4 separate regions of the Homo sapiens genome follow, and regions 1, 2 and 4 are each linked to region 3. Evidence: fine-mapped expression QTL. A gene starts in region 3. Each other region holds a variant in brackets. All regions are shown on one strand. Distances are between the middles of the regions.

Region 1 (8,114 bases), 49 kb after region 3:
TGGTTGGATAGCTGTCCTCCATGCAGTCATTCATGATCCAGGCTGTCATCATCTTCATCACTCATGTTCAGAGTTACCCTAGAGGTCATCTCCATTTCATCCAGATAAATGAGTATGCAAGGAACGTTTTTATAGGTCAGTTCTAGAAGTAGGAAACATTAATTTACTCACATTCTGTTGGTTGAAAATAAGTGATGTGTCCACAACTAACATCAAAGGAGGCTGGGAAATTAGTCAAGAGTACCCAGAGGAAAAAAAAAGGAGAACATGTATTTTAGTGAGTAGCCAACAGTTTTTTTAATAATTTATCTTTCTGGCACGGAAATAACTATGCACATTATTTTTTTCTGTCTCCCCAATAGAGAGAACCTAAACATCTAGCATTTATTGCTTCTAGCTCCAAGCCAAGGATCTCAAGCTAACACACAGTCCTCTCTCAATTTGCCTGTGACATTTTTCTACTCCTCCCCAGCATCACAAAACCCCTAAGAAATAATGATTAAGCAGTGGATAACTGCTTTATACCTGCAATAATCATTCCCATTTATAAAGGGAAGAATGGAAAACAGCCACAGGAGTCATTGGTCCATTGTGATGATAAAACCTCTGCTCACGAGACCACTGAGAAGATCCACTATACTGAAATAGAAGTTTCAGTTTATGGTCTTTTTGTCCATTCTTCATGGCTCTCCCCTCTGGATGGTTATTCCTTTCTAGTCATGTGTGAAGTGGATGTTATAAACTCTATAGAGTTTGCCTTCCTTGGGTACTGCTGTATATTGGTTTAAATGTAGAGGCCCAAAAGTTGGCTTTCATTCAAAGACTTTTTTAGATTATGTTTCTGGTTTCTTAGTAAATATAGTTCCCTCACATTTTAGTAACCTTCTTACCATTTCTACTCAGTTGCATGTGCCAATAAACACAGTGCAATTTCTTTCCTAGACCTAATTCTCATGTCCACTTTCTTTCTGTGCTTTAGAACTCCTTGACTTCTCTTTTTCTACCCAATAGTGTCTGCTTTGAAGTAATCTGAAATAATAGGCTCAGGTGAGACAGTGAAAACCCCTAATCTGCTCTTTGTCTCTCTCTCTCTTTTTTTTTTCTTTTTTTTTAAGCTGATAAGTTTTCATGGGTCTTTGTTCTTCAAAGCCTGTTTTCATTTTTCTCCTGTTGGTTCTCAGAAGAAGTTGGCTTTTCCAACATTTTTAGCCCCAAATTACTGGACTTTCTATTCTCTATATTTTTGCTTGTGACATGACTAGTTCTTGTCTGACTTCATCTTCATCTTGTAATGCCTTACTAGAAGGAATGAGGAACAACTTGCAGACACCAGTTTGAAGAATACTTACGACTGTAACATTGTATTCTATGAATAATGACATATTGTAATTGAGGCTAGGAAATAGAGTCTGTGCTAGGAAGAAAAGGAGAATATGAATGTGGTAATCAGGTTGTACTCTCTGCTGCAATATTTAAATTCAATAAAAATCATAAAACTTATAGAGCAGAAATAAATTTTAATTGTGACAAAAAAATACAAAAAAAATCAACAAAACAAAAAGTTGTTTTTTGAAAAGATAAGTAGAATTAACAAACCTTTGCTTGCCCAAGGAAAAAAAGGAGAAAACTCAAATAAAATGGGAAACAAAAAAGAAACATTACAACTGATACCACAGAAATGCAAAAGATCATTAGCGACTACTAAGAACAACTATATACCAACAAATTGCAAAATCTAGAAGAAAAGAATACATTCCTGGGCATATAAAACCTATCAAGATTAAACATGACAAGACAGAATAGTTGAACAGACCAAAAATGAATCATGAGTTTGAAGCAGGAATAAAAAATCTTCCATCAAAGAAAAGTCCAGGACCTGATAGATTCATTGCTGACTTCTACCAAACAGTTAAAGAACTAATCCCATTTCTACTAAAACTATTTCAAAACATTGAAGAGGAGGGAATACTGCCAAACTCATTTTACAAGGCTGGCATTACTCTGATACCAAAACTAGACAAGAACACAATAAAAAAAAGGAATACTACAAGGTAATATCGCTGATGAACATAGATGTAAAAATCTCAACAAAACACTACAAACCAAATTCAGCAACACGTTCAAAAGATAATGCATCATGATCAAGTTGGATCACGCCAGTGATGCAGGGATGGTTCAACATACACATATCAATAAACATGATGTATCACAACAGCAGAATCAAGAATAAACACCATACGATTATTTCAGTAGATGCTGAAAAAGTATTCAACAAAATTTAACATTCCTTCATGATAAAATTAATCTTGTTAAAATTTCTCTACTACCCAAAGTGATCTACTGATTTAATGCAATCTCTATCAAAATACCAATGACATTCTCCACAAAAATCCTAAAGAACAATCCTAAAATTCACATGGAACCCCAGAAGATCCCCAATAGCTGAAGCAGTTCTGAGCAAAAAGAAAAAAGCCAGAGAATCACACTATCTGATTTCAAATTATACTACAAATTTATAGTAACGAAACAATTGGGTACTGGCATAAAAATAGACACATAGATCAATAGAATAGAACAGAGAACCCGGAACTAAATCCACACACTTAGAGTCTACTCATTTTTTATAAAAGTACTATGAAGTTACAATGTGGGAAACGATTGTCTCTTTAATAAATGGTCCTGGGAAAACTGGTTTCTATATGCAGAAGAATGAAAGTAGATTCTCTATCTTTCATCATATACAAAAATCAACTCAAAATGGATTAAAGACTTAAATGTAAGACATAAAACTATGAAATGACTGGAAAAAAACATTGGGAAAACACTACAGGACATTGGTCTGGCAAAAATTGTGGGGGGGGGTAAGATCTCAAAAGCCCAGGCAACAAAATCAAAAATAGACACATAGGATTACATCAAGCTAGAGAGCTTCTTCACAGCAAAGAAAACAATCAACAAAGTGAAGAGACAACTTACAAAATATGAGAAAGTATTTGCAAAATATTCATCCAACAAAGGATTAATACCCAGAATATATAAGGAGCTCAAACAACTCAATAGCAAAACACAATTCAATTAAAAATGGGCAAAAGATCTGAATAGACATTTTTCAAAAGAAGATACAAATGGCCAACAGGTATTTGAAAAACATTCTCAACATCACTAATCATTAGGGAAATCCAAATTGAAAGCACAGTGAGATATCATCTCATCCTAGTTACAGTGGCTGCTATCAGAAAGGCAAAAAATAACAAGTGTTGGTGGGGATGTGGAGAAAAAAGGAAATGGTCATACACTGTGGGTGAAAATGTAAATTGGTACACCATTATGGAAAACAATATGGAGGTTCCTCAATAAACTAAAAATAGAACTACCATATGATCCAGATATCCTACTCCTGGGTATATATCCAAAAAAAGGAAATCAGTATATGGAAGACATATCTGAACTCTCATGTTTATTGCAGCATTATTCACAATAACGAAGATATGGAATCAACCTTAGCATCCATCAGTAGATGAATGGATAGCAAAAATGTTGTCTCTATACACAGTGGAATATTATTCAGCCTTATAAATGAAACGCTGCCATTTGCAGCAACATGGATGGAACTGAAGGTCATTATGTTAAGAGAAATAAGCCAGGCACAGAAAGACAAATATTGCTTTTTCTCACTCATTTGTGAGAGCTGAAAAAGTGGATCTCATGGAGGTAGAGAGTAGAATAATGGCTACCAGAGCCAGGGATGGGAAGTGGGTAGAGGGTAGAGAAGTTGGTTAAGGGATACAAAAATAC[A/T]GTTAGAGTAGAAGGAATAATTTCTAGTATTCAATAGTACAGTAGGAAAATTATGATTAACAATAATTTATTATGTATTTCTAAATACTTAGAAGAGAAGTTTTGTTTTGCTCCCAACACAAAGAACATGTAAATAAGGTGATGGATATCCCAATTATTCTGAACTGGTCATTACTCATTGTATACAGGTATCAAAATATTACATATATCCACCCAAAGTAGGTACAACTATTGTATATCAATAAAAATAGGTAGATTAAATCGAACAGTGCATATAAGGTAATAAGCATGAAAATATTAATAAATGGTAGTAGTTTTTATTGTTTACATTAAGAGGGGCAGAACTAGAACTGAAATTCATCTGCTTTGTATGTATATGTTATGCTTTTTAAAATAAAATACAAAATACTTGAGATTCAAACTTTAGCCTTACTTTTAATGTAACATAGTAAGTATATATCCAAACTATATATACTTGGAAATAAGCATGTTGCCAAAAGTATGCCAAAAGCCCCAACCTATCTAAGTAAATACTACATGATTTTCATATTTACAGATAATGTTATTTAACAATATGGTTTAATGGAACACTGATAGTACTTGATAAGATGAATGTTATCAAAAACAAATGATTGAGAAATTTAATTACCAGCAATTGTATCATTGATAATTTATTTAAAAGAATTTTGTTTTCTTTATGAATATTTAATGGAAATAAGTCAAAGTATTTGTACCCATTGCTTTAAAAATGAATTTTATAGAATAAACTATTTCTGGATTTTATAGACACTCCTTTTTAAAAAAATTTTCATTATAATTGTTTTCTTTTCAGCAGGCATTTTGGAGATCAAAGATGGGTAGAAAAGATGCTGCTACTATAAAACTTCCTGTTGATCAGTACAGAAAACAAATTGGTAAGCAATGAATTATCTTTGATACACTCCTATTAATTGAGATAAAAACACAATTATGCATATTAAGAAAATAAATTTTCTCTAATACATATGATACACAGAAATATGTGAGTGAAAAAGGACTTTATAGAGTTTTATGGAAGCAAAATTAAATGCAGTCCTGCTTACCAGTAAAGATATGAACTTCATGTACTTACGATTTTTCAGTGCTCTTATAATTTTAATTAATTTAATAAAACAAAAAATAAATATTATTCTTTAGGCTGAATGCTTTTATATAATCAGCATTTTTGATTTTATAATCCATTAAATCATTCCTTTGTATACATATTATAACTTTTAATTCTGTTGACTCTTATTGGCAATAATTTGATAACTTCAAAATTCTCCTGTAAAATATGCTAAATAAAGTAGAACAAATGTTCTTTTATATGGAAACCTGAGTTCAGAAAAAAAGAAAGAGAATTCTCCAGAGGTCATATGTGAAAGAAGGATTAAGGAAGACTGGAAATAAGGATTTGTAGATGGAATTGAGACTCCCAAATATACTTGGACCCTCAAGGAGATACTACCCTAGTAGAACGGTGGACTAGAAAAGCTCACTTAGCACAGGAAGATAACAGGAAGCTTATCTATTTTAAATTAGGCTCTAGGTGCAGGATTTTCTTTTCAAGGATACATGGAGTATTTCTAAAAAATTACCTACCTACATACTAAGTCACAAAGAAAGTATCCCAAGTTATAAACAATCAATATCCTATAACTGCATTTTTAAATCAAATGTAGTAAATTAGAAATTAGTTAGAAGCAAAAAGGTAACTTCCCCTTCTTCACCCAACCCTCTCCTTTAGTGCACTTTTTTCCATCTGTACCATTGCTTTGGAAATACAAAATAAATTAATAAAAATAACACTTCTAAATAACTAAAGGATAAACAAAGAAGTTACATTAGAAGTCAGAAAATAAATATAAATAATTGATACCAAAATATAGTATATATCTATTTCATAAATAAGACACAAAAAGTACGCTCTATAAAGCAAAATATATTTCTGAAAAACAAAAGACATGCAAACAAAGTAAAAAATATTTGGAATACATATAGCCAATTAAGAATTTGTATAGTACAGGCCGGGCGCGGTGACTTAACGCCAGTAATCCCAGCACTTTGGGAGGCCGAGGCAGGTGGATCACAAGGTCAGGAGATCGAGACCATCCTGGCTAACATGGTGAAACCCTGTCTCTACTAAAAATACAAAAAAAAAAAAAATTAGCCGGGCGTCGTGATGGGCGCCTGTAGTCCCAGCTACCTGGGAGGCTGAGCCAGGAGAATGGCGTGAACCCGGGAACCCGGGAGGCAGAGCTTGCAGTGAGCAGAGATCATGTTACTGCACTACAGCCTGGGTGACAGAGTGGGACTCCATCTCAAAAAAAAAAAAAGAATGTTTATAGTACGTATTTAAGGTGTACAACATCACTTTTTGCTATACACACACAGAGTAAATGATTACTACAGTCAAACCAATTAAAATATGCATCATCTCACATAGTACCTTTTCTGTGTGTGGTAAGAGTCCTAAAATCTACTCTCAGCAAATATCCAGTGTACAATACAATATTATTAACTGTAGTTCTCATGTGGTATATTAGATCTATAGTTTATTCATCCTACATAATTGCAACTTTATACCCTTGACCTACATCTCTGCATTTCCCCTTCCCTCCAACTCTGCTAACACCATTCCACTCTCCTTTTCTACATATTTGACATCCGTTTTTTAAGATTGAAAAGATAAGAGAGATCATGCAGTATTTTTCTTTCTTTGTCTGGCCTACTTCACTTAGCATAATGTCCTCCAATTTCATCCATGTTTTCCCAAATGGCAGGACCTCCTTTTTAAAGGGTGAAATATATTTTTATATATGTATAAAATAATTTCTTGATTCCGTCATCTGTCTGTGGACACTTAGGTTGTTTCCATATCTTGGCTATTGTGAATAATGCTGCAGTGAACATGGTATCTCTAAAATGTGGAGATTTTATTTTCTTTGGGTATATACCTAGGAGAGAGATTGCTGGGTCATATAGTAGTTATATTTCTGATTTTTAGAGGAATCTCCATACTATTTTTTTCCATTTCTACTAAGAATATACAAGGATTCTGTCTTTTCTGTATCCTCACTAACATTTATTACGTTTTTTTAACATAGTCATCCTAACACGTGTGAGACATTATCTTATTGTGGTTGGATTAGCACTTCTCTGATAATTAGGGAGGTTGAGGACTTTTCCATGTACCTGTTTGTCATTTTCTCCATTTTCTTTGGAGAAATGTCTATTCAGACCTTTTGACCATTTTCTAGTCAGGTATGTTCAATCAAGTTGTCTTTTTTACTATTGTAAAATATAAGTTCCTTATATAATTTGACTTAACTGTTTCTCAAGTACATGGTGTACAAATATTTTCTCCCATTTTGTAGATTACCTTTTTATTTTGTTCATTGCTCCTTATGCCATGCAGAAGATTTTTAGTTTAATTTAGTCTCCTTTGTTTGTTTTTGCTTCAGTTGCATGTTCTTTAGTGTTACATCCAAGAAATCATAGCCAAGACCAATGTCAAGAAATAAAAATGAATTAAAGGCAAATATAAGACATAAAACTACTAGAAAAAAAGAAGGGGGACATTCATTCTATACCTAAAAGGCAAATATAAGACATAAAAGTACTAGAAAAAAAGAAGGGAGATATTCATTCTATACCTAATTTATTGAGAATTTTTATCATGAAATGGTGCTGAATTTTATTTTTTGTTATACCTTAAGTTCTAGGATACATGTGCAGAACGTGCAGGTTTGTTACGTAGGTATACATGTCCCATGGTGGTTTGCTGCACCCATCAACCCGTCATCTATATTAGGTATTTCTCCTAATGCTATCCTTTCCCTTACACCCCACCCCCTGACAGGCCCTGTTGTGTGATGTTCCCTTCCCTGTGCTCGTATGTTCTCAATGTTCAACCCCCACTTATGCATGAGAACATGCGGTGTTTGGTTTTCTGTTCCTGTGTTAGTTTGCTGAGAAAGATGGTTTCCAGCTTCATCCATGTCCCTGCAAAGGACATGAACTCATTATTTTTTATGGCTGCATAGTATTCCATGGTGTATATGTGCCACATTTTCATTATCCAGTCTATCATTGATGGGCATTGGGGTTGGTTCCAAGTCTTTGCTATTTTAAATAGTGCTTCAGTAAACATAAGTGTGGATGTGTCTTTATAGTAGAATGATTTATAATCCTTTGGGTATATACCCAGTAATGGAATTGCTTGGTCAAATGGTATTTTTGGTTCTAGATCCTTGAGGAATCACCACAATGTCTTCTACAATGGTTGAACTAATTGGCAC
Region 2 (8,114 bases), 360 kb after region 3:
CAGACCTGTCTAGATCTTTAAGAATAAAAAATTTTAAACATAACCTAAGCATCCTCTTTGTCTCTTGCTGGTGCCTGTTCCCCAGGTCTTTCTTGCTATGCCCAGCAATACATTCCCCAGAGATAATGTGATGGCCATTTCCCTTCATCATCATTTAGGTCTCAGTGATGTTTCCCGACTCCTTTAGATTAGTTTTCGATTGATGTCAGTACTTGGTAGTTCTAAAAAAATGTAATCTTTGAATTGTCCTAAATGTTGTCCTTTCTATACAACCTTGCAAATCAAAGTGGGATCTGGGGACCAGCAGTATCAGTATTAACCGGGAGCTTGTGAAAAATATAGGCTCTCAGGCCTCTGAATCAGAAGAAAACATTTTCAATAGGCTGTCCATGTGATTTGAAAGTACTTTGAAGTTTGGGAAGCAGAGCTGTATAACACATTGTTTTTCCCTGCAAATTTCCAAAGCAACATCTTATCATACTATTATGTTCTGGGTCACAGAATGACTCTCTTTGGGACAGCCTGTTTCTATTTTGATAACAGTATCCCTCTTTTCTCTTTATGTAAATCAAAATCCTTTAACATTTATGGAATTTGTATGTGAAGAAAAGGATAAAAAAAGGCCCCAGAGCATAGGTATTACCCCACAGTATTACCATTGATGCTTCCCTTCTGCACCATGTTCATTTACACCAAGACCTTGGAATATCATCAATGATATTAATAGAATATACATTAACAACACAGAAGGGAAGACCAGGCCCATTGAAGTGATAGTTCTGTTTCCTTTGCCTAGGTAGATAATGAAGTAGATTCACTTTTCCCATGACACTGGGCTGCCTGATATTTTGCTGTGTTACATGACGTGCTTCAGCATGACTAATACAGCCCAGCTGGTCTCAACAGCAGGAAAATGTGTCGTGGGGGGAGGGGTGATATGGCGAGGAAGTTACGCCTGCGCAGGCAGAGGAGGATCTGTTGTGTCTATGAGTGGATTGGGGGTGGGGTAGGAAGAAAGAATGAATGAAAGGGGGAAAACGAGAAAATCCCAGGAGTTCTGGAGACTTGAAATTTTTCAAGCTGTCATTTACCTTTGCAAAGTTGTGGTTGGTGACTGTGTTTACAGGCTTGGATCTGTAAACAGCACATGTGCAAACCGTTAGCTATTGTTTTGAAAATGACAGTATGGCCAATAATTTCAATTTCAGTGTTTAAGCGTGAACCAGATGACGCTATGTTTTATTTAAAACTGGGCATGTATCATGAAGGGTGGAAACTTGTACCTCTCAAACACTTTTATATTGTGTAGTGTGCCATATGTTGCCTGCTTTCAGGTTTTTAAAGTGATTGCCTACTGCCTCAAGGTAGCTTGTCTCAAGATTATAATCCAAATCTTGCTTGAGGGCAGAAATGAACCCATTAATTTAACAGTACACTAATGGGATTGGTATAAAGGTGTTAATTCTATTCAATATTCCTTAAGGATTAGGTTGAATGATAGTTTGGTTAAATAAAAAAAAGGGGGGGTGGAAAATCAGTATAAAATGTATGGGGCCACATAAAAGATTTGACCGATGTGTTTTAAAATTGTCTAAAAAATAAATTTAAAAAACCAAACTCGTTAGCTACATGAAATCATTTCTAACTTAAAACTCTTTTTAAAGTCTTAAATTACAAAGTACATCTTCCTTATTTTACAACTTTGGATGGAAACCAGTTTCTTTTTCCCTATTTATTCTCAATAAAGACAAGAATGAACGCTAACATTTGCTCTGACTTATCCTGGGTATATATTCAAGAAAGTTGCTGCATGCATATTCTAGTTGAATATTTAATTTCAATGAGATTTGGTCTGGTCATTGAATAAAAGATCCCTGCCCTCTTGAATTGCTTTTAAAAATTTGTATCTTATGTCTGGCTGAAGGGAGAGGTACCTAGCTCTGAAATTATACCCACCAGCTAAATGCAATTAGCTTGTGTGATCCTTGACCCTTGTGGAATGGGAGACTTTGTTCTGTGTGGTGAAGATGTGGGCAGCAGGGAGAGAGAGGCACGAGTGGGTGAAGGCTGTCCATGCTTTGATAAAGGTCATACAAATTTCTGTGTCTTCCTTAGAGGAATGTTGCTCTGATCTTTGGAACTCCAAGGCCTAAACTCATCTAATTCTTTATCCTGTGCTGGCCCTGGAGGCATTTTACTTCTAAGAATCCAATTCTATCTCCCTCAGAGGAGGCACACGTTAGCTCCCTCATCATTTTCCACCTCACTAAGTAGTCATCCAAAATACCATTACTGCTTAATTCATTTAATACTAGTATCCATGTTCAACTAATATCTTCCTTTAAAAAAAATTGGCAGTTGTTTATAACAGGATTTCTTGTCAGGTAATATCTAGCTAGATTTGTTTTAGAATCCCTTTTTTTGTTAGCGTAAAAAACAAAACCCAGCCAGGGCAGAAGATTAGGTTTCCCTCTAGGCAGGGTTCAGACAGTTTCTTCTTTGTGTTTGGCTCTCTTCTTTTGTAAGATGTGATCGGCAGCCTGTATTTGGAGGCCTGGGAGGGAAGAGATTAAGTTCTCCTCAGCTGGCTGTCCGAGGGTGTGGCTTTTTAACATTTTGGCTAACAGATGGTGACAAACCAACAGGTGCACCCAGATCACTGCACCAAGCTTTTTACATCTGCTGGGCACACAAACAGTGTGCTTGCTGCAGCTCCCCCGCGCCAGCTGGGGCCTTGGCTGCTACGAAGCCTGGCCGCAACAAGGTGCAGAGAGATGGAGGCTGGCGACCTTCAACTATTAACCTACTGATATGATGTGCTTTAGAGGATAAGCAGGGCAAGAATGCTTTGATCTGAATATTATGCAGTGAAAAAAGAGACAAAGGGGCACGGAACCTGAAGTGAAGTGAGGAAGTGGCAGGCTTTTCAGGACTTGACAGCTTCTCTCATCAAGGCCAGAGATTTTCACTTTAAGCAAAGACCTTGGCCTGCATTTACTGCTGTCTGGGAAAGTTGTTTGATGGGCTGAAAATGGTCGGATGAAAAGAGCCTAGAGAATCCTTGAGACAAATCCCTTTGCCACAGTAACAACTAACCTTCAGCAGGCATTGGCTGTGTGCAGTGCTCTGCCTGAATTATCTCATCGCATTCTTACCAGTTTATAGGGCGGGCACTGTTATCAGTAAAGAAATCAAGTCACCTAGAGGCTAAGCGATTTACAACTGGAAGAGAGCAGAGGCAGTGCTTACTGATTCAACATTATTTAAACACATGTTTATTGAAAGTCTACTATGTGCCAGGCACAGGCCTATGTGCCAGTTCTTTAAACCAAGTAGGCCCGACTCCAGAGCATCTGCGTTGAACAGCTATGTGCAGTCAGGGATTAACTCACTTTAGACCTCTATCTACTCGAAGGTAGAGAAGGAAAAATGTGCTTGAGGTCACTAGAAGTTGCAACTTCACCTATTAACTCCATCTCAAAAGGGTTGGGTTGTTTAAAAATTTTGTGTATTTTTTTTTTTTTTTTTGCTATGATTACCAAGTTTCTTATGTCACATAAAAGAAGGTCATGCCCCATACCGTTTTACTAATCCTGACCATTAACCCTATTTAAAGCCAGGGATTTTGAGACTTAAGAATTATTTCTCCTACACTGTTATTTTTACAGTTGAAGAAAATTAGTCACAGAACTGTCTCCTGGGGTTCTACAGCTCTGTGGTATCAAACAGGGACTGGAACTCCAATTTTCTCATTTTTCTACCCTCAATTCAAATCTATTTTTTCCAAACTAGATTGCCTCATTTCCATTTCCATGTGTTTCATGCTCATCTCTGTAAAGGATTCAGGAACATAGTTGTAACAGGCTGGCTGCCACTCCAGCCCCAGCTGTCAGTGTACAACCTTATGCCTGCCAAGTGGGGAGCAAACACAGTAGGGCCACGTTTAACCTACCTTCTAGGGGAAGGAGTTACTAAGCTGGGTAACCTAACAGATCTGAACTAAAGAGGAAGGTGAACAGATAAAACAGGGTGAATTAACATGAGAGGAAGAAGAATGACTTATGGGGGTAGTCCAGGAACCTAGGGGTTACTTATTTTATTTTATTTATTTTATTTTATATTATTTTGTGAAGAGAGGGTTTCACTGTGTTGCCCAGGCTGGAGTTTGTGGTGCAATCACGGCTCACTGCAGTCCAGACCTCCCCAGTTCAAGCCACCCTCTCACTTCAGCCTCCCAAGTAGCTGGGACAACAGGCGCATGCCACCATGCCAGGCTAATTTTTTATTTTTATTTTTGTATGGGATCTCACCATGTTGCCCAGACTG[G/C]TCCCAAACTCCTAGCCTCAAGCAATCCTCTCACAATGGCCTCCCAAAGTGCTGGAATTATAGGCATGAGCCACTGCACCAAGCAGGTTACTTATTTTTTAAAAAGACTATATCCTGTGCCTGAGTGGGAGCAAGAAGCCAGACAGGACCAGGGTCAAAGTCCTTGATCTTAAAAGCACCACAAGCTCCTAAAATAACTCCAGCCATAGCAGGAAGAATACTAAGAACCATTTATATACACCCACCTTGATCATAATTTGCTGAAGGATTGGGGAAGACTTAAGCCAGTGAACAGGGATGTAAGCCATGATGCTTTGAGGATGTGGGGAGAACATTAAGAACAGCAGAGGAAGAATATCAGAGGCTGGTGGCCACTGTGATTACAGCTCCTTCACAGTCAGACCCTGCAGCAAACAACTTCAGAGATGCGAATCAGTAGCATGAGTTTGGGGCTCTTACCTGTTGTGTTCTCTATTTAATCCCATAAAACTTGGCAGCAAATAGAGGCGTAATATATGTGTACAATGAATAATAGGCTGTTTCAGTAAGAAATGTGTATCTTGCAAAACCGGGCATTTAATTCCTACAGAATTTTCAACAGTGGCCAGAGTGGCAAGTTAGTTAAAATGTAAAACAGCTGATATCTGCTGTTCAGAAATCATTGGAAGTGTGGCTCTTCATAGTCAAACCAATGCTAGCAAAAATCAGGTTCTTTAAATAAGATTTTATTCTTCCTGAAGATTCTATTCTTTATTTAGGAAGATTTTATTCTTTGGTTGAATTTTTGCTGCTTTCCTTTGAAAAGATTAAGGAGTTGGAGATATTATTCAAACAATCTGTAAAGTAATTTTTGATTGAGGTGAAGAAGGAAAACTTAGTTTGGACCTTACGTGTTGAACTTTCTGGTTGTTTCTTTGCATAGCGCAGATACTAGTAAACACACACTTGTGATTTCATCATCCCTCTGTATAAAAATGCACACATTGTCAAAAGTGATTAGTCCATTCAGAGACCACACTTGATGTTTATCTGTCTTATTGCTGGCCTCCTGGGGACGTAGATGTCCAAGGTGGACACACAGCCTTCCCAGAGAATCTCACCCAGTCTCAGAGCTCTAAGTGTGTAGGATGGTTTGGTGCTTGCTTGTTGACTGCTGATTTTAACAGCCCGGTGGGTTTTTCAAGTGTAGTGGAACGGAAAACTCAGTTGCTCTTGATGCAAACTAAATAGTTATCTTTCAAACTGTGAGTCCCTCTCTTCTCTGTGGGCATATTTAAAATTAGGAAGAACACAGCAGCCACTTGTCTTAGTGAATGCAGTGACTTGCCTTGGGCCACACAAGAGCAGCCAGGCACATTGCCAGCTCTGACAGCAATGGCGGGTTCTGGGGTGTAGACTCAGGGAGCCTCATTTCGAGTGTTAGATGGATCTTTGAGCAGGGCACGTCAGCATAAACTGTAAAAAGATCCCCACAACAGTATTAACCCCACAGCGAAGATTAGCTGAGAATGTTTTCGATCTTCACAGTCATAATCTGCTCCTCAGGTGAACAGTGAGCACCAAATGCCAGGACACTGTGAGAACAGGTGTACTAACCTCTGCCTGGGACTTGGGGAGGGGAAGTAATGAGCTAAGAATGGCCAAATCATAAGGTCCTAGGTAAGAAAGCTCTTAAACAAGTGTGCCTGGACTTATGAAGCTTGAAAATGCCCTCTTTGGCATGCTGCCTACAATATAGTGTCACATAAAACAGCACTTCATAAAGTGTGTTTCACGGAACATGGTCCCTCAAGATGCTCCATGCTAAAGTCATGTGCCATACTCTGCGCCAGCACAGGAGTACGTGAAAGACTCAGAAACATCCTTTAGTAAAACACTCTTCTGCGCACACAACTTCTGTATCTGGCCAAAAAGCTATTTTCATGCAATTACCTTTTCACGTCTTTCAGTTATTTCAGTTGTACACGCTTTAGGAAACACTGATCTAAACAACAATTCAAATGTAGCTAACATCTTACAGAAACCAAAATGCGGTGTTTCTGAGACTTCAAATGGTATATTTAAATCAAGGTTCTGGCCTCTTCTGGAGCAGTAGAATTTAATATCCCCCCTTCCTATTCCACTATTCTTCAAATCCGAGGCATTGTTGTCACTGATGCCAGTTTGGATCTAATACTTAAACATAAATCTGTTGGGTTTCTTCTTATGTATTTCACTAAGATACGATTGCAGTAAAATACTGTCACTGAAGCGCTTGAATTTCTGTTCCCTGACCTTAAGGTAAAGTGGAGATCCACCCAGCAAAGTGAGGTGGTCTACTTGTATAAGAACTGAGAGTAAGACATTAAAGATCCTTCCTACTTAAGAAAGTATAACTTGACCTAACTTATTAGTACTGCTAGAGCCTCAGTAAGCACAAGAAGCTACAGAGGTAAAAGCGCTGATCCTAGTAGGAGATCTTTTCTACCAGCATCTCTTTTATTGCTATTCTGCAAGCCAGATGCTAGGCTTCATATGGCCCACCTGCAGGGCCGGATTCCTGGGCAGCCACCTTAGCAGTCCCCCAGGGCCCCACACTTAGAAGGACTCCAGGCTTACTTTAAGGCTCTGCTGTTGCCCTGTTGAAATTTTTAATGATTTTTAAACAATGGCCCCACATTTTTATTTTGTACAGGGCCCTGCAAATTATATCACTGATTCTGACCACCTGGGGGAAGGTGAGCCTCTCTTCTGGCATCATTTTTCAGAAGGTTTACTCTCTTGACTGGCACAGCATATCAACTGCAGTTGTCACTTGCATTTATCGGTTTGAATACCTTTCGGTAGTAAAATCTGAAGCTACTTGAAGATGTCACTATGTGCTCATGAAAATATGGAATTTAAAGTCAGAGATAAATGGACTGAAGCCACAGCATACACATTTACTGAGGGTTGGATCTGAGCACTGTTACCTAGCTTCTCTGGGCTTCAGCTGTGAGGCTCCTGCTCTGCACAGGAGTTTGTAGACACAGCCAGGGGACCAAGTGGAGCTGAACTAAACCCCTTGCTGCTCTTGCTAAGCCATCTGTCCTGGCACATGCATTTGTAATTTATACAAAGGTGCTACATAAGCAGTTGATGGTCCTGCACAGCTTTCTCATTTTTGAAAATGGGAAGCGTGCTTGCTGTCTCACAAAGACTGAGATAACGTATGAAGTATTTGGTATAGGATTAACCTAATACCTGTTAAATTTCCTAAAGGTAAGTGTTTATATTCAGAACTTTGAAAAGACAATGAACATGTTAGCCTATAACCTAAACTCATAGTATAATATTAATTAAATAGTTAAGCATATTTATTTCTGATTATACTTGTTCACTCAAGAACAACATACGTGCATCACAAGTAATAATGTCGCTGAAGTGTTTTCTGATGCTAAATTCCAATTTCTCTTGACTAACAAACTTGCGGAAAACCCTTGGTCATTATTTTTTTTGTATTGTTCTTTTTGTATTGTATTTTTTGTTCTTGTTCTGCACTAAAGGCTTTTTCATACTTCTTGCTGGGATCAGCTTGCATCAGAATGGTTGTTTCTGTCATAAAGCTTCTATGATAATTTCAGTGACTACTCAATTCTCTCCTCTATAGTCATCTAAAATCTAGTTTTCAAGTAGCTTTTGTTCAATGTAGAATTCTGGTAACAGTATAAACTCCTAAAAGCCAGGCAGTCCTAGGTTTTAATTTCAGTTTTTATTAGTTTCCAGGGATGCTATAACAAATTGCCACCTTTTAACTGGGTGACTTAAAA
Region 3 (8,114 bases):
ATGGCAATTATTAAAAAGTCAAGAAACAACAGATGCTGGTGAGACTGTGGAGAAATAGGAACACTTTTACACTGTTGGTGGAAATGTAAATTAGTTCAACCATTGTGGAAGACAGTGTGGCAATTCCTTAAAGACCTAGAAGCAGAACTGCAGAACCACCATTCCACTCAGCAATCCCATTGCTTGGTATATACCCAAAGGAATACAAATCATTCTATTATAAAGATACATGCATGCGCATGTTCATTGCAGCACTATGCACCATAGCAAAGACATAGAATCAACCCAAATGCCCATCAATGATAGACTGGATAAAGAAAATGTGGTACATATACACCATGGAATACTATGCAGCCATAAAAAGGAATGAGATCATGTCCTTTGCAGGAACGTGAATGGAGCCAGAAGCCATTACCCTCGGCAAACTAATGTAAGAACAGAAAACCAAACACTGAATATTCTCACTTATAAGTGGGAGCTGAACAATGAGAACACATGGACACAGGGAGGGGAACAACATACACAGGGACCTGCTAGGGGAGGATTTGGAGAGGGAGAGCATCAGGATAAATAACTAATGCATGCTGGGCTTAATATCTAAGGGATGGGTTGATAGGTGCAGCAAACCAGCATGGCACAAGTTTACCTGTGTAACAAACCCACATATTCTGCAAATGTATCCTGGAACCTAAAATTTAAAAAAAATTAATTTTTTTTAAAAAAAGAAAATATAAACAAATGCACAAGCATAGTTGGAGATTTAACACCTTTCTTTCAATAAGTGATAGAATATGCTTAAAAATGTTGGTAAGGATCACTATGGCATATGTATACCTAAGTAACAAATCTGCACATTCTGCACATGTATCCTAGAACTTAAAGTAAAATGAAAAAATAAAATAAATAAATAAAATGTTTTTAAAAGCAAAAAAAAAAAACTGTCATAAGATATAGACTATAATCAACATTTAGAGCATACTGCATTCCATAATTTCAGAATACACATTTTTTTTCCAAATACACTGAGAACAGTCATAAAGATAAACCATATGTTGGGTTATAATATATGTGTCAATAATTTTCAATAAAATTTGAAATATTACAATATATATTTTCTAACTACAATGGAATTAAAAGTCAATAACTGTAAGATATTAGACAACTCTCAAATACTTGGAAACACAGAAACATAATTCTAAATATGTAACCAAAAAAGAGCCCATATAGCCAAGAAAATCCTAAGCAAAAAGAACAAAGAGGGGCATCATGTTACCTGACTTCAATCTATACTACAGTAACCAAAACAGCATGGTACTGGTACCAAAACAGATATATAGACCAGTGGAACAGAACTGAGGCCTCACAAATAACACCACACACCTACAACCATCTGATCTTTGACAAACCTGACAAAAACAAGCAATGGGGAAAGGATTCCCTATTTAATAAATGGTGTTGGGAAAACTGGCTAGCTATATGCAGGAAACTGAAACTGGACCCCTTCCTTATACCTTATATAAATATTAACTCAAGATGAATGAAAGACTTAAACGTAAGACCTAAAACCATAAAATCCCTAGAAGAAAACCTAGGCAATATCATTCGGGACATAAGCATGGGCAGAGACTTATAACTAAAATTCCAAAAGCAGTTGCAACAAAAGCCAAAATTGACAAATGGGATCTAATTAAACTGAAGAGCTTCTGTATAGCTGAAGAAATTATCATTAGAGTAAACAGGCAACCTACAGAATGGGAGAAACCTTTTGCAATCTATCCATCTGACAAAGGGCTAATATCCAGAATCTACAAGGAACTTAAACAAATTTACAAGAAAAAAACAAACAACCGCATCAAAAAGTGGGTGAAGGATATGAACAGACACTTTTCAAAAGAATACATTTATGCGTCCAATAAGCATATAAAAAAAGCTCATTATCACTGGTCATTACAGAAATGCAAATCAAAACCACAATGAGATACCATCTCATGCTAGTTAGAATGGTGATCATTAAAAAGGCAGGAAACAACAGATGCTGGAGAGGATGTGGAGAAATAGGAATGCTTTTACACTGTTGGTGGGAGTGTCAATTAGTTCAACCATTGTAGAAGACAGTGTGGTGATTCCTCAAGGATCTAGAACCAGAAACGCCATTTGACCCAGGAATTCCATTACTGGGTATATGCCCAAAGGATTATAAATCATGCTACTATAAAGACACATGCCAACGTATGTTTATTGCAGCACTATTCACAATAGCAAAGACTTGGAACCAACCCAAATGCCCATCAATAATAGACTGGATAAAGAAAATGTGGCACATATACACCATAGAATACTATGCAGCCAATTATATTTCAATTTGCTAGAAATGTAAGTCAATAATATATGTCTTTATATGGTAAAGAAATAAGCATATAACATACATCTGGAAGTTTTAATTTTACATTAAGCTATTTACTTCTTGTTGTATAATATCTTACATATGTGAGAATATTCAATGCATTTGCTGTACAAATGCATTGCTGTACATCTTTATGTAATGAAAATGGACTCAAGTACATTCACCACTTTTATTTAAATCTTACAGCATTTATTTATATATTTATTAATATATAATCATAACTCTTTCTTTTTAGTCTAAAACTAATTTTTTTTTTTTTTTTTTTTTGAGATGGAGTCCCACTCAGTTGCCCAGGCTGGAGTGCAATGATGCAATCTCGGCTCACTGCAACCTCTGCCTCCCGGGCTCAAGCAATTCTCCTGCCTCAGGCTCCTGAGTAGCTGGGATTACAGGTGCCTGCCACCATGCCTGCCTAATTTTTGTATTTTTAGTAGAGACGGGGTTTCACCATGTTGGCCAGGCTGGTCTGGAACTCCTGACCTCAGGCAATCCGTCCACCTCAGCTTCCCAAAGTGCTGGGATTACAGGCATGAACCACCACACCTGGCCAAACCAAATATTTTTAAAAGATTAAAGAAAATGGGGACTCTGAGTCATACAAATCAAGAAAGTTTTATAGAGAGTTATTCACATTTAGCAAGCTTTCAGAAGAATTTGGATATTCAGCAGGTCAAGAGTGTAAAATTATTTGTAATTGGAATGGGTTTCTTTTATTCCAACAATTGCATCACAGTACGATGAACATTTTAATTGAATCTCAAGGCACTTGTCCAGAGGTACTCTTTTTTTTTTTCTTTTTTCTTACTACAACCGTATCTATCAGACAAGATAAACCCTTCTGGGTTTTGGTTTAATATGGAAGGAAAAAGAGTTTCACTATTTTAAAGCCACACACATAAGTAATCTGGTTAAGTGTATTAATATAATCTCATTTAACTCTACCTTTATTTCTGGGAGAGGAACTGGAGACCAGAAAATGATTTAGGAGGACGGAAAATAAAATTACATTTTGGATTCAATTCCTGGCCATAATATTCTGTGAGATTTCAGAAAGCCTTCTGGTTAGTCTATTTATACTTGTCTCAGTTTTTTTTTTTTTTTTTTTTTTGTATGCTACTTTCTTTCTCAAGGGCTTTTGGAAAAAGATATGATGGGGCTGGCCTAGAGGAAGGTGACTTTTATGTGAGCAAGAGAAAAATTAAATTGGAGGTTGCATAATTTTTTGAAGGAATTTTAGATTTAGTTCACCACAATATTAAAAAATGATGGCTGCAGGCACTTAGATTTGTTGAATGGTTGAATAAATCTAGCCTTTCCTAGCCTGTGTTTCATTGTCCATAGGCTGTGGATAATACTCTTAGTGGGTTTTGTAAGGATTACATGAGTATAATTTATAAAGCATTTAATATTTGAATACTTTTCCAATAAGTAACATCTTAATATTTCATTCCCATTTTGTAGATGTGAAAATTGAGTACCCGAACATAGGCTCCTAAATCCTAATTGTCAGTCACGTTTTTGCAATCTTTCCTAAATTTATTAATCTCTGGTTAATGTTAATATAAAACGATTTTTTTTTCTTTTTTGCTGTTTGAATGGGCAATTAATTGATTGTTTACACAGACAGTGCGCCCTTCCACTTAGGGACGCTCCTTAGGGATGATCCTGTGAATTGGGGAGTGTGTGTGTGTGAGATGGGAGGGTTCAATAATCAAAATAACATATTTTTCCGTTTTATATTAACTAAACAAGTCACAGTCTTTATTTTTAATTTCTACAGTCACCTCGTGAGACAGGTATTAGAACTCCGGAGTGGCATCAAAATGAGGGAAAGGCCTCAGGGCCAGCGCCTTTGCGTCCTGGACCGGCGTACAGACGGGAGAAAGGCCGACCAATCCGAGAGCAGGCTGAGGCCTGGTCCCGCCCCTGGGGGCAGAGCCTCGCCTCTTTTCCGCCTCACCCTTTGGGAGTAGGGGTGTGCGGCTGGCTTGTCCCGCCCCTGCCCCTGAGTGACAGAACCGTGGACAGCAACATTTCCCACAGGACACGAAGTTTGTCGGCCCTTGCCTTGGCAGAGCTGAGGTGTGTGTCCGGCGAGTGCGAGGGGATTGGGGAGACCCTGCCCGGGAAGCTCGGGGTCCGGGAATGAAAGCGGGCGCACCTCTTTAGCGAGCCCTAAAGCGTTTGGGAGACGATCGTTCCGTCCCTGGGAGCGGCACTTGGTGGGGCTGGGCGGAGGGAGGCTCTGCAAGAGAAACCCGGAGTCCGGGAAACCCAGTAGGTACGGTGATCACTGAAGGACCCGTTCCCGTTGAGTAGGGCGCTGGCTGCGGGATGGGGGATGGAGGGTGCTGGGTTCGGTGGGCGTGGCCATTGCGGTTGCTAAGGAACGCGCGGTTCCCGCCCTGCCAGCGTGTCTGGCGCCAGCCGCTGGGCCCTGGACACGTTAGTCCCGCCCACCTCCCAAGGTCTTCCACGCGGCTCGGGATTGGCTCCTTTGTGCTGACCGATTACTCGCGGTCGCTTACTTGTCAGTGCAGCTCTCTGGGTTCTGCCGTTCCCTTTTGGGGCCCCCTTTCCCATGGTACTCCTCTTCACTCTTTTTCCTGCTTCCTCTTATTAATGAACGAGTATTTGCATACCAAAACATTTGCAGAGAAGAGATTCAGACAGGATTAGGTGGCTTTATCGGTGGTGGTGAGGTTGTGGGGCGGGGGTATTTTTCTTGGAGCTTGGTGTATTCCTGAATCCATCAGATGTTGGTGTCCGCGTGGATGACTAGGAAAAGGGGATTGGAGATTAGGTTTCTTCTACTTGGAGTTCTCTGCTGCTTGTTTGAGCTTAATAAGCCTCCTGAAGAAGTTGAAGCAATTTATTGCTAGAGGAGCCCCAATGTATAATCTCCCTTTCATTCTCTACTGTGGAGAGGTGTGCTAAACCTGTAGAGCTGTTTTTGCTTCACTCGGCTCATACTTAATGATCAACAAGTATGGTGTGAGATGGTAACCTCAGATAACCATTTTAAATCTGCCTTTGTTTGCTCATATACTCTGTCTCCTAATGATTCAGCACAACAAACATTCCAGAGAGAAAAAACAAAAGAGGTAAAAATCTTTTATTTTCCTCTGGCAGGTTTACAGTGCAAACCCCCAGGAAGGAAGCTTGTGCTGCTTGTTAACATTGGGAGGAGCATTGGCCTACAAGTCAGGAAACTGGCATGGTTAAGAAATGTTTGTCCTTGGGCAATAATTGTTTCGTTATCTGTAAATTGGAGACTCTAGGATATGCCCTTCCTTCCTAAAAAAGGAGGAATAATTGGTTGTGAAAGTATCATTAAAGTAATGATCCACACAAATGTAAAGCATTATTGATTACACTTTTAATCTTTTTGTGTATATGATCCAAATTTATAAACACGTATAAGTATTGCCATTCAGCTTTAAGTATTTTCAAATTTCCCTTGTGATTTTTTTTTTTTTTAATCTTAGGGTTATTTAGAAATGGGGAAGAAATTAACTCATCTATTCATTATTGATTCTGTGTTGGTTCTGGTTAGGTAGAACCTGTAATGTCTTGAATGACACCTTTTCCTCTTTAATATCACTAGATATATATATATATATAGATATATATATATACCTGAAAAGATTGGGAAACATTACCTTTTAATGCGAGGATGACTAACCTTTTTGGTGTCATTTACCACTTTGAGAAACCAAGGAAAGCTATTGACTTGCTCCTCAGAAAAATGCACAATTTTAAGCCTAAATGGACCCTGTTTTTGTTCAACTTCTTTAGGGATAAGGAAATTATTCTCTCCCACTTGCCTCATCCTACAGAGAGACTAAGTAACTTTTACCCAAGGCTACATAGCTGGGAGCAGAGTGGGGCTTTTGCCTTTCTTCCACAGTGCCTCTTACCATAACATACCTTTGTTCAAGGCCTTCAGTCATCTGCAGTTCCCTTTTGGGGCCCCCTTTCCCATTGTACTTTTTTGTTTTTTTGAGCACTAACAAACGGGAACTACTAATGTTCAGTTATTTGTTGCTATCTTACAAAACCATGTAATCTATGTTTTATCCCAAATGCCCTTTGATCATAACCTCTTAAAGCATATTCTGGTATTTAAACAAGTAAAAAGAACATTGTCAAATATTTTGAGAAAAATGTGAAACTGTATTTTTTTTTTTTTTTTGAGACGGAGTTTCACTCTTGTTGCCCAGGCTGGAGTGCAATGGCGCTATCTCAGCTCACCACAACCTCTGCCTTCCTGGTTCAAGCAATTCTCCTGCCTCAGCCTCCCGAGTAGCTGGGATTACAGGAGTGCACCACCACACCTGGCTAATTTTGTATTTTTAGTACAGACGGGGTTTCTTCATGTTGGTCAGGCTGGTCTCGAACTCCCAACCTCAGGTGATCCGCCCGCCTCGGCCTCCCAAAGTGTTGAGATTACAGGGGTGAGCCACCGCGTCTGGCCAAAATTGTACTTTTGAGATGAACATTAAATCCATAAACTTTCTCATCTATCGAGGTCCGTTTTGGACAAAGAAAAGCTGATTATTTTTAGTACATGCCACTGGAATATCATTACTTGATACTTAGAACTGTTTTTTTTTTTTTAAACTTAAGTGAATAATCTTTTATAACATTTTAATTTGTGGCTAAAAAGAATTGTGGTTGTTTTCACTGTGGCTCTTTTCCTGATTTCTATATTCATATAGAAATCTGTAAATAGAGTTCATTATTTTCTTTGGTCTGATTCCCTATCTAGCTTTATCAATAAAAGTGGATATCAGTAGTAGATATAAAAAGTTGTTATTGGATAAGGAAAAACTTGAAGAGGTAAAGAGCTATTGCTTTTGTAAAACGCATAAATGTATATATGCACCTGTTATTTCGTTAGTACTTGTAATTTTATTTGAACTGTTTGGTACTTGACTCTTTCTTTATTCAACTCTGTTCATTTCTGGTAGAGAAACAGGGATAAAGACAAATGGCTTAGAGAGAGCATTACAATGGATTTAGAGATTTTTAGGGGCTCAATAATAGCTCTTTCCTTCCTCTCTTGCGTTTGTAAACAGACATGTGGCGCCTGCCATATCAACTTCAACTTGCAATAACAAGTCGAGTGGGGATAGTGCTTTATGCAAAAATGAGACCAAAAATGAGTACTAGTACTTCCTATCCCCTTTTACTCCTACTCTCTTTCCCAGAACCTAGACTTTAGTTCAGCTGAGAGAAAAATTTCAGATTGCGGAACAGATACGCTTACTTACAATTACTGCTTTTCATGGTGTAGGGCAGAGGTCTAATAAAAGATGGAAAATCTCCAGTGCTTAGTGGTTTATAATGGGTTAGCTCTACCGGTGGAGTAATGTGAACCGGTCAGATACGTCTCTTTTTGGTAAGCTGTGAAGAAGAAGTGGGATCTGAGGCCAGGACTGTTAATCTAGTGCTCTGGTTTTCCATTTCCAGAATGGTTTTCCATTCTGGGTGACACCTCTGGGGTATTTGAAATATGCCAGGGTGTTTTAAAATTATTCTAATTTCTTTAAAGGAAGTACTACTGGCTTTTGGGATCCTGAAGTTCAGAGATGATAAATATTGTGTAATGTAGAGATCTATCAGCTCAATAAAGAATTTCTTTGTCTCACTCCAATGCCAAAGCATCTTTTGAGAGTCCCTGCTCCAGTGGACATTCTTCTATGTA
Region 4 (8,114 bases), 31 kb after region 3:
GTCAAATAGGTATAGCCCCTTTGCTTCTCTGAGATCTGTGGAGGAGGACATCTCTTTGCCTGGGGAGGTTGTAGGGTGAGCTTTTTGGTTGTGTGGAGCCATTGCTTACCTTCCTGGGCAAAGCCAGTGTGGCTTCTTTCCTTCTCTGATATCCCTTCATGTCTCTGACATCCATGAAGCTGGGAGTCTTCCTGCCTTATGGAGTCATTGGGTAGGCATTTTGGCTGTGTGGAGCTGCTGTTTACCCTGCTGGGTCAAGCCATTCTATCCCCTTTGCTTCTCTCAAATTCACAAATAAAACAATTCTGTGAGCTCACACAGAGTGGGGAGATATTAAGGTTTGGACCACTCAGAATGGCACGTCTTCATAATCAACCAGGGCATTTAGTTGAGACCCCACTGGGGATAATGTTTTAGAAGTAGGCTGATCTATACCTAGATTAAAGGTTGCTTAGATGCAACCTAGAAAAAACTTAAGTAAAACCTGACCATACTGATTTTAACTCTCTTTCTCCTCTCAACAAAAAGCCCCAATTGTTTTAAAAGAGTAAAATAACATTTAGACATTAAACAATGTAACAATTGCAGTTCCATTATCTGGTAAAAATTACTAGTCATGCCACAGAGCAGGAAAGTGTGATTTATAACCAAGAGAAAAACAGTCAATAGAAATAGATCTATAAATGATAGATTTGGTGGAACTACCAGCAAAAAATGTAATCAGTTATTATATTTTTAAATATTTAAAGAAAAACCTTAACATAAGAGGAATATAGAAGATATTAGAAAGAATCAAAGGAACTTCTAGTGGTGAAAAGTATAATTTTTGAGTCACAACTTTCACTTTATGGTATTAACAGCAGATAGGACACTGCAGAAGACAAGTTCAGTGTGCTTGAAGATATTGCAGTAACATTGATCCAAAATGAAAGGCAGAGTGAATAATTGCCCCTCCCAACAAAAATCAACAGTGCCTCGGTTAGTTATGAGACAATACATGGTCTCATATATGTGTAGATGTAGTCTCAGAATAGTGGCAGGGGCAGGGGAAGAAATAAAAAGTATTTCAAGAAATCATGTCAGAAGTTTTTCCAAATTTGATGAAAATTACAAAACGATACATCTAAGAAGCTCAGAGAAGTCTGACCAGTATAATAGTAGACACACAGACACCAAAGCACATCAAAATTAAATTGGTGAAAACAATAATGCAAAAATCATTAAAAGTAGCAAGTATGGGTGAGGAATATAAACTAAAGACAAATTTAAAATGGTTGGTGATGGATGTGTTAGTTAATTTGATTGTAATAATCATTACAAATTGTATACATATATCCAATCATGTTGTACACCTCGAATATATATATATATCTCAATTAAAAATTTTAAAATATAAAAAGGTAAACCTAAAGATAAGTTTGAAGACTGTTCCACAAAACTATCCCAGTTGGTAGACAAAGGAGTGTTAGCTTTCAAGTACTGTAAGAATAGTTGTGACCCTAGAACCCTAGAATTCTATTTGAAGAAAAATATTCTTCAAAAATTAAAGACAAAATAAAAGTTTTTGTCTCTAAACAAAAGCTGAGAGAATTTGTTGCCCAAAGACTTGCACTGCAAGTAATGTTAATGGAATTCTTCAGAAAAAAGGAAAATGAAACATCACACAAGGAACAAAGAGTATTGGAAATAGTAAATATGTAGGTAAATACAAAAGGCATTTTTATCATTTTTAAGGTTTTGAAAAAGATATGTTGACTCTTTACTGCAAAAATATTATCAATGGTTTATATTGATAAAAACATAGATGTGAAACATATGACAATAATATCCCAAAGGATAGAGGGTTGAGATTGGAAGTTTACTTTTGCAAGATCTTATATAATATGTAGAGTAGTATAATATTATTTGAAGATAGATTATGAAAGGTTACATAATATGTATTATAAATTCTAGTAACTGCTAAAAATGTAAAACAGAGGAATGACTAATAAAAGTGAAGATGGAATAAAATACTAAAAAATGCTCAATTAATCCCAAAGAAGCAAGTAAAAAAAAAAAACAAAGAAGATGAGGTAACAGCAGATGGGACAAATAGAAAATAAATTGTAGGATGAGGGATATAAATGCAAACATATTTAATTACATTAAATAAAATGATCTTAATTGTACATTTAAAACACATGTTTTCAACTGGGTAAAACAAGCAAGACCCAGCAATATACTGTCAAGAAATCTGATTAAATAAATAACCCTGTGCAAGCGATCTTAATTGTACTTCCTCATTCCTGCTATATAACCACAGAATTTGGCGTTTATCATTTGGGTGCATGTGTGTGTGTGTGTTGGTATAGGTATATTTTTCCCTAAATAATATTGACTATTGATTTTTCATGTTTTAAGTTGTTTTGTAAGTGTATAAATACATGTGTCTTTGTTCACACATTTTAACTGCTTTATATTTCACTTATGAATAAATTATGTAGACATACAGAGTTTTATTTTCCTTTTTTGCTGTTATTAAAAACATTTTCAGTGAGTGTACTTACTAGTGTTTTTGTGCACATATAGAATTGTTTCCCTAGTTCATATAACTAGCAGTTGATTAATGGTTCTTGTAGGTACATAATCTTTAATTTTACTGGGTATTGCCACATTGCTCCCTCAAATATTTTATTAATTACTCTTCTTAACTTATTGTAATAATCTGAGCTCCTATAACAGTTCAATAAGTAGTCATGCATATACTTTTAGAGGTATTCCATAGTATTTATAGCTGCTTTATAGATTTTGTTGCTATACTAAATTAGAATTTTATATATAAACTTTATATATCATAACCTGGCTGAGCTCTTACAAATAATTTCATACAGATTCAAATATTTGTCTGTAGTTTCTCTCCACTTTGCCACCTGGGAGTCATATTATTTGTGAATCATAATGTTTTCTTTTTCCTTTCCAATCCCCTATGCTCTTTCCCCTTTTGTCTTACTGTGCTATCTGGATGTCTCACTGCAATGTCTTTGTCTTGCTTATGATTTTTAAAAGAGAACTTTTAATTTTTCTCTATTTAGGATAATCTTTGCTTTGTTTGTTTGCCTATGTATCAACAGGGTAAAAAGTTCTTTTCTATTTCTATATACTAAATTCCTTGCTTTCTCCTTCCTGCCTCCCTCTGTTCATCCTCTATCTTTCTTCCTTCTCTCTCCCCCTGTAATAATGAATGGGTATTGAATGTAACTTTTATTTTTCTGTATTGATTGAGGTCTGTCAGTATTTTCCTCCTTTAATCAGTTAACAAGAATACTACTAAGATAATATCTAATGTTAAATTGCCCTTTCATTTTTGTGATTAGCCCAGCTTCATCATGGAATATTTTATCATTATGATTATACATACTGGATTTGGTTGTCTAATATTATGTTTAGGATTTTTGTATCTTTGTTCATAAATAAGATTGGCTTGTAATTTTTCATTCTCATAATGATCTTGCCTTGTTCTCATTTCAAGATTCTATTAGCCTTATGAAATGAGTTGAGAAGTGTGCCAATTTTTAGGCTTCAAAATAGTTTAATATTTTATATACCTGATAAAGCTTGTTGTAGGGATTATGTGTTCCTTGAATGGTTAATAAAACTTCCTTGTTGACCATTTAATCTTACCTGTTTTGTGTGTGTATGTCTTATTTTTTAAGGGTAGATTTTTAAACATTGATTGACTTAAAAAATTATAGTTCCACTGAATTTTATTCTATTTGATCTCTACCTTCTTCAGCTGCTATTG[G/A]TAAGTCTGTTTTTTAAGAAATGTGTTTTAATTTTTAAATTTATTGATATGGCATTTTTAATAGAATCTTCTTGTTATATAATGTTAATCTCTGCTGAATATTGAGTCTTTTTTTAAATATCTAATACTGTTTGTGTATTTTTTTCTTATTCCGTCAGGACAAGAGTTTGTTCCATGTTATTATTTTTCAAAGGCTCAGTTTTTGTCTATGTTGATCATCCCTTTTGACTCTGTTTTTTAAATTTAATTATTTATTGCTTTTAGTTTATGACTTTTTGTAATTTGAAGGGCTTTATTCTTTTTCTATTATTTCCTTTTTGGTTCATTATTTTTCAATCTTTTGTCTTTTCTAATTTGTGCTTACTTATCACTTTAGCTACATTACTAATTTTTCAAAACTTTCTGTTGATGCATAATACTGTACATAAAGGAACGTGCACAAAACAGAATATGTAGACGGTGAATTTTCACAGAATGAACACGCTTTTAACCAAAACCCTGATTATTTTATTTTAGCAATAATTTCTAAACATTTGCTGTTGAAGTGTTTTAATATTTGTAGTTCACAACATTGATCAAGTTGGAATCTTTTATTATCTTGAACAGTTTATTCAAAAGTATATTTTTCGTATTTTCATTTGCTAGCTTTTCTTTGTTATTTTTTGTGAGACTGAATACTCTTAAAAAGGCCGACAATTAACTATCAAGCAGAACTTTGACATCTTTTTAAATGAAATACCTTATGAAAGGCATTACAGATTTGATAGAGTGGGAATTAGGGAATAGGAGATGGAAGATAAAAAGCTGGCACAAAGTAGAACTTCTGGTTTTTTGTTTGTATTACAGTTTAACTTGGGAAATTCTTTTCTCCATCAATCCATTGTAACAGGAAATCTACTTATGCTTTTTCGTATTGTACTATTCCATCTATTTTTACTTATTTATTTGTTTCTACATAGTAGAGTTATATTAGCTAATAGCCTAGTGCTTATTTCCATTAACCTTTTTCCATGTTGTTTTCTCAATTTTTTAAGCTCAAAAATCTTTATTGTATTTCTCTAGTGGAAAAATTCGGTGGTATTTTAAAAGCATAATTTGCATCATAGCTGATAAATACATGTTATAATACCACAATCTGTTTGAAAACTAGCAGTCTGCAAATACTAACAAAGTGCTAATGCTATAATCACCTGGGACTTCGATATAATGAATGCGTTTAGTACAACTTCTATGAAATTGGATATAGACCAGTTGTTTTTATACTTTTGACATTTAATTACTAATAAAGCTCTTTTAAATAAGTCATACAGCATTTTGAAGCTATTACATTGGAAGCAAAATTTCCATAAAGGGCCTTGTTATTGTTGTCTTGAGCTCTTTGTTTCCTCTTATATACTTAAGCTTATTTCAGTACACATAATTTCCATTAGTTTTAAGATATATATGCTTAAAAGTTATGTACTTATTGTTAGTTCTGTCTTAATATTTAAGGATGTGTTTCTCGGCATGAAAATAATTACCCTTAGCCTGATACATATGCTTATGTATTCTATGTTTTTTAAACTGGAAGAGAGTTTAGCAATTGTGTAAGAAGGGAAACTGATTGACTTTGTCAATGTCATCTAGTCTTTCATTGAAAAGATGTGGCTAAGGTTTTATGCCTTCTTGTCTGGTACATTTCCCTACTATTCTTTATTTAGTCAAGGGATAATCATTGAACGTCTTTTGGAAACTATCCATGTACCAAACTAGAACTTGCTTTTTCAGTTCACCATTGAAATAGCCACCATTACAAAAATAATAGAGGTTTTTATTTCTTTCACACTTTCTCTCCTGCTCTCTCTGTGTGGAACTGAGTGACTTTCCCTAGTCACTTAAGGATTTTTTTGTTGAATTTGGAAACCTAATTACTTGAAATTGATAATACACATAGAAATGACTAAAAATTAGCATAAGTGATGCTTGCCGCTAAAATAGATCAAGGAGATTCAGTGAGTGATATGTTATCTGTGTACTTTATAGTCAGAAGTGTGAGAATCATTGTGTTTAAACCTTAGATTAAGTGATGAATCAATATACAGAAACATGATTTCACAATATATATCTTGAATGTTAGCAATCTGATATAGACAAGCTATATTTTTAAATGTATAAATACCCATGTAAACATACAGTATGTGGCTACACATAGGACTGATGCTTTTAGTTTTCTATCTAGAATCTTTATGCCTTATCTTCAAAGAACACTGGTTTTATTCTTTTATCTACCCATTTTGCAGACAGTCATATGTTTAGGAGAAACAGACCCCATGGCCAGCTTCAGCAGTAGGTGTGGTTGGTTTAAGCACAGTCTCATTTTCCTTGCCATAGCGTGGAGCATATGTCTATAAGGTGTAAAATAAGGTGATAGACCTCTATGGGGTATTTAATATTTGATATTACCATTATCACCAAGTTGGTCTATATGAGCACAGGTTATTTATTCTGTAGATTTAATTCAAATCGGTTCTTATCCTTTGTTTCATAGGTGACTCACAAATTTTAGAAATATTAGGTATTAATTGTTTTGTAAAATATTATACAAAAAATTAAACATGAAAACTTTCATTGATAATAATGTCTGACAGGTTTCCTAATGTTAGAGAGGAAAGCTATGAATATAAATGTGGAAAGGGCGTAGTAGAATGAGAGCTGTGTGATGTTGGATTGGAAATTGGAAGTACTGAGCTCACACCAATACATATATTTCCTAGCTCTCTCTCCTTAGAAGGCCTGTGAACAGTATCAGTTTATTAGAAATGAGCATATCTTGTCCCCAGATCTTGCTTTCTAAAAAACATTCTCTACTAAAGGGGAAGTGGGCCCTTAGAGAAATGGCAGGTCCCAGGGCAGGAGCAGGGAAAACACACGCTAAACCGTAAATATCTGTGTGTCAGAAAATAAAGAGGTTCTTAAAAAAGGTGATATGCCAAAAGGACACAAACCACCTTGAAGGAACTTTCACTGGCCAAATCCAGGACAATTTGGGAATCAAAATTTTAAAAATGATATACATTAATTCTAACTAATTGAATAAAAATATCTATGAGTACATACTGCTATAAACGCATATATGAATAAATAAATGGAGAGAAGGAAATGCTTTTTAATAAAGTAGGATACTAACGAATAAATATGGAAGAAATGAGGAAATTATAAAATCATCACATGGCACCTGTCAGAATATAATTAATTCAACCGAGAAACATCAATAAATGCTAACCAAGTAGTGGTAAATTTGATGAATAGGATATTTACATAGTTTCAAAGCACCTCCACACCAAATACTTATTAATTACAAAGGGGAAAAGACTAAATTCTCTCTCAGTGGAGAAATTAGGCAGGTACCACCTTAATCAAGTGATCCAAGTTAACACTGTCAAAAGAGGATAGCATGCAATGAGAACACTGTATTGGTCAGTTTAGTTAAAACAAACAAAAAAGGTAGAAAACAGGAGAAACTTGCTAGTTAAAGGAAAAATAAGAAATTCACATTGATTATGCTTTGTTAGAATGATGCTAGATGTATGATTGAAGAAGTTAGGGGTAGTTATATAGGACCTTGGAATATATTTGAGGGAATGAGGTACCCAAGGAGGGCGTAATATATAAAGTGAATGAATTATGGGGAACACGGGAACACAAACGCCATAGTTTCATAGGCACCTAGAGGAAGAATGCTAATGAAAGAGGTAAAGAAGAAATTGAAATGTAGAAGGAGAATCAGGAAAGTGCTGACTTGGAAGCTGACGGCTTGAAGTTTGACGACAGAGTATTCAGTAGTGCCATGTGCCAGAGGATGATTTTGTAAATAAGGACAGTCTATCTCAGCATAACCTACTATTGTGATATTCTCATATCTGTTTCAGGTATTGCCTAAAATATTAATCTGTTTTCTGAAATGCAGTATTTTAAAAGAAGACTTGCCATTCTTTCCTGGTACCGCAACACCTTATGGGTGATAAAACTAACTGAGCTATGGTGTATGGTAAACTGTCCTTGTGTGCTTCATAGTTGGGGCAAGGGCTGTCCTGGATGGTCCTGGTTTAAGTTTATCTTGCTGTAATGAATGGGGCCCTCTTTGACTCTCAAAAGTGTTCTGGCTTGGATGGTAAGTTATATGGTCATCCTATTATAGGTCTCTGATGACAGGATATTCCTTTATCACAAGCTGGGGAAATGATTGATAAGCATGTCTCTTAGCCAGTTCTTGATATCTTTTATTCGTTAACCAAAATGCTTATTTTGTTCTGTTATGATCCATTTTAATTAGCTTTCCAATAATCTAGGCCTC

Alleles and levels. Alleles are on the strand shown, and positions count from the first base shown. SD is a standard deviation of normalised expression in the study named. Not every link is listed here.
With allele G in place of C in region 2, the expression in coronary artery of the gene that starts at base 4,349 in region 3 is lower (small effect, 0.31 SD a copy in GTEx).

What was found. PIP is the estimated chance that this variant, and not a neighbour inherited with it, causes the effect.
Region 1: its variant is the best candidate, but not a certain one, in a credible set for the expression of TRIQK in whole blood (INTERVAL, PIP 0.89).
Region 2: its variant is the best candidate, but not a certain one, in a credible set for the expression of TRIQK in coronary artery (GTEx, PIP 0.54).
Region 4: its variant is the best candidate, but not a certain one, in a credible set for the expression of TRIQK in whole blood (INTERVAL, PIP 0.50).

The regions. Positions count from the first base shown.
Region 1 is chr8:92,913,524-92,921,637 of GRCh38, reverse strand. It overlaps TRIQK (triple QxxK/R motif containing), which reads left to right. Exons shown (of 5, transcript NM_001171797.2): 3 at 4,628-4,709. The coding sequence starts at 4,649. Among named protein-coding and RNA genes, the nearest start is that of TRIQK, 49 kb to the left of the region's middle. The variant A/T (reference allele first, on the strand shown) is at 3,796.
Region 2 is chr8:92,600,768-92,608,881 of GRCh38, reverse strand. All of the region lies in intron 3 of LOC102724710 (a long non-coding RNA gene), which reads left to right. Among named protein-coding and RNA genes, the nearest start is that of FLJ46284, 180 kb to the left of the region's middle. The variant G/C (reference allele first, on the strand shown) is at 4,327.
Region 3 is chr8:92,962,379-92,970,492 of GRCh38, reverse strand. It overlaps TRIQK (triple QxxK/R motif containing), which reads left to right and starts at 4,349. Exons shown (of 5, transcript NM_001171797.2): 1 at 4,349-4,486. RefSeq lists a silencer at 4,253-4,362 and an enhancer at 5,033-5,142.
Region 4 is chr8:92,931,529-92,939,642 of GRCh38, reverse strand. The region is part of intron 2 of TRIQK (triple QxxK/R motif containing); the gene reads left to right. Among named protein-coding and RNA genes, the nearest start is that of TRIQK, 31 kb to the left of the region's middle. The variant G/A (reference allele first, on the strand shown) is at 3,782.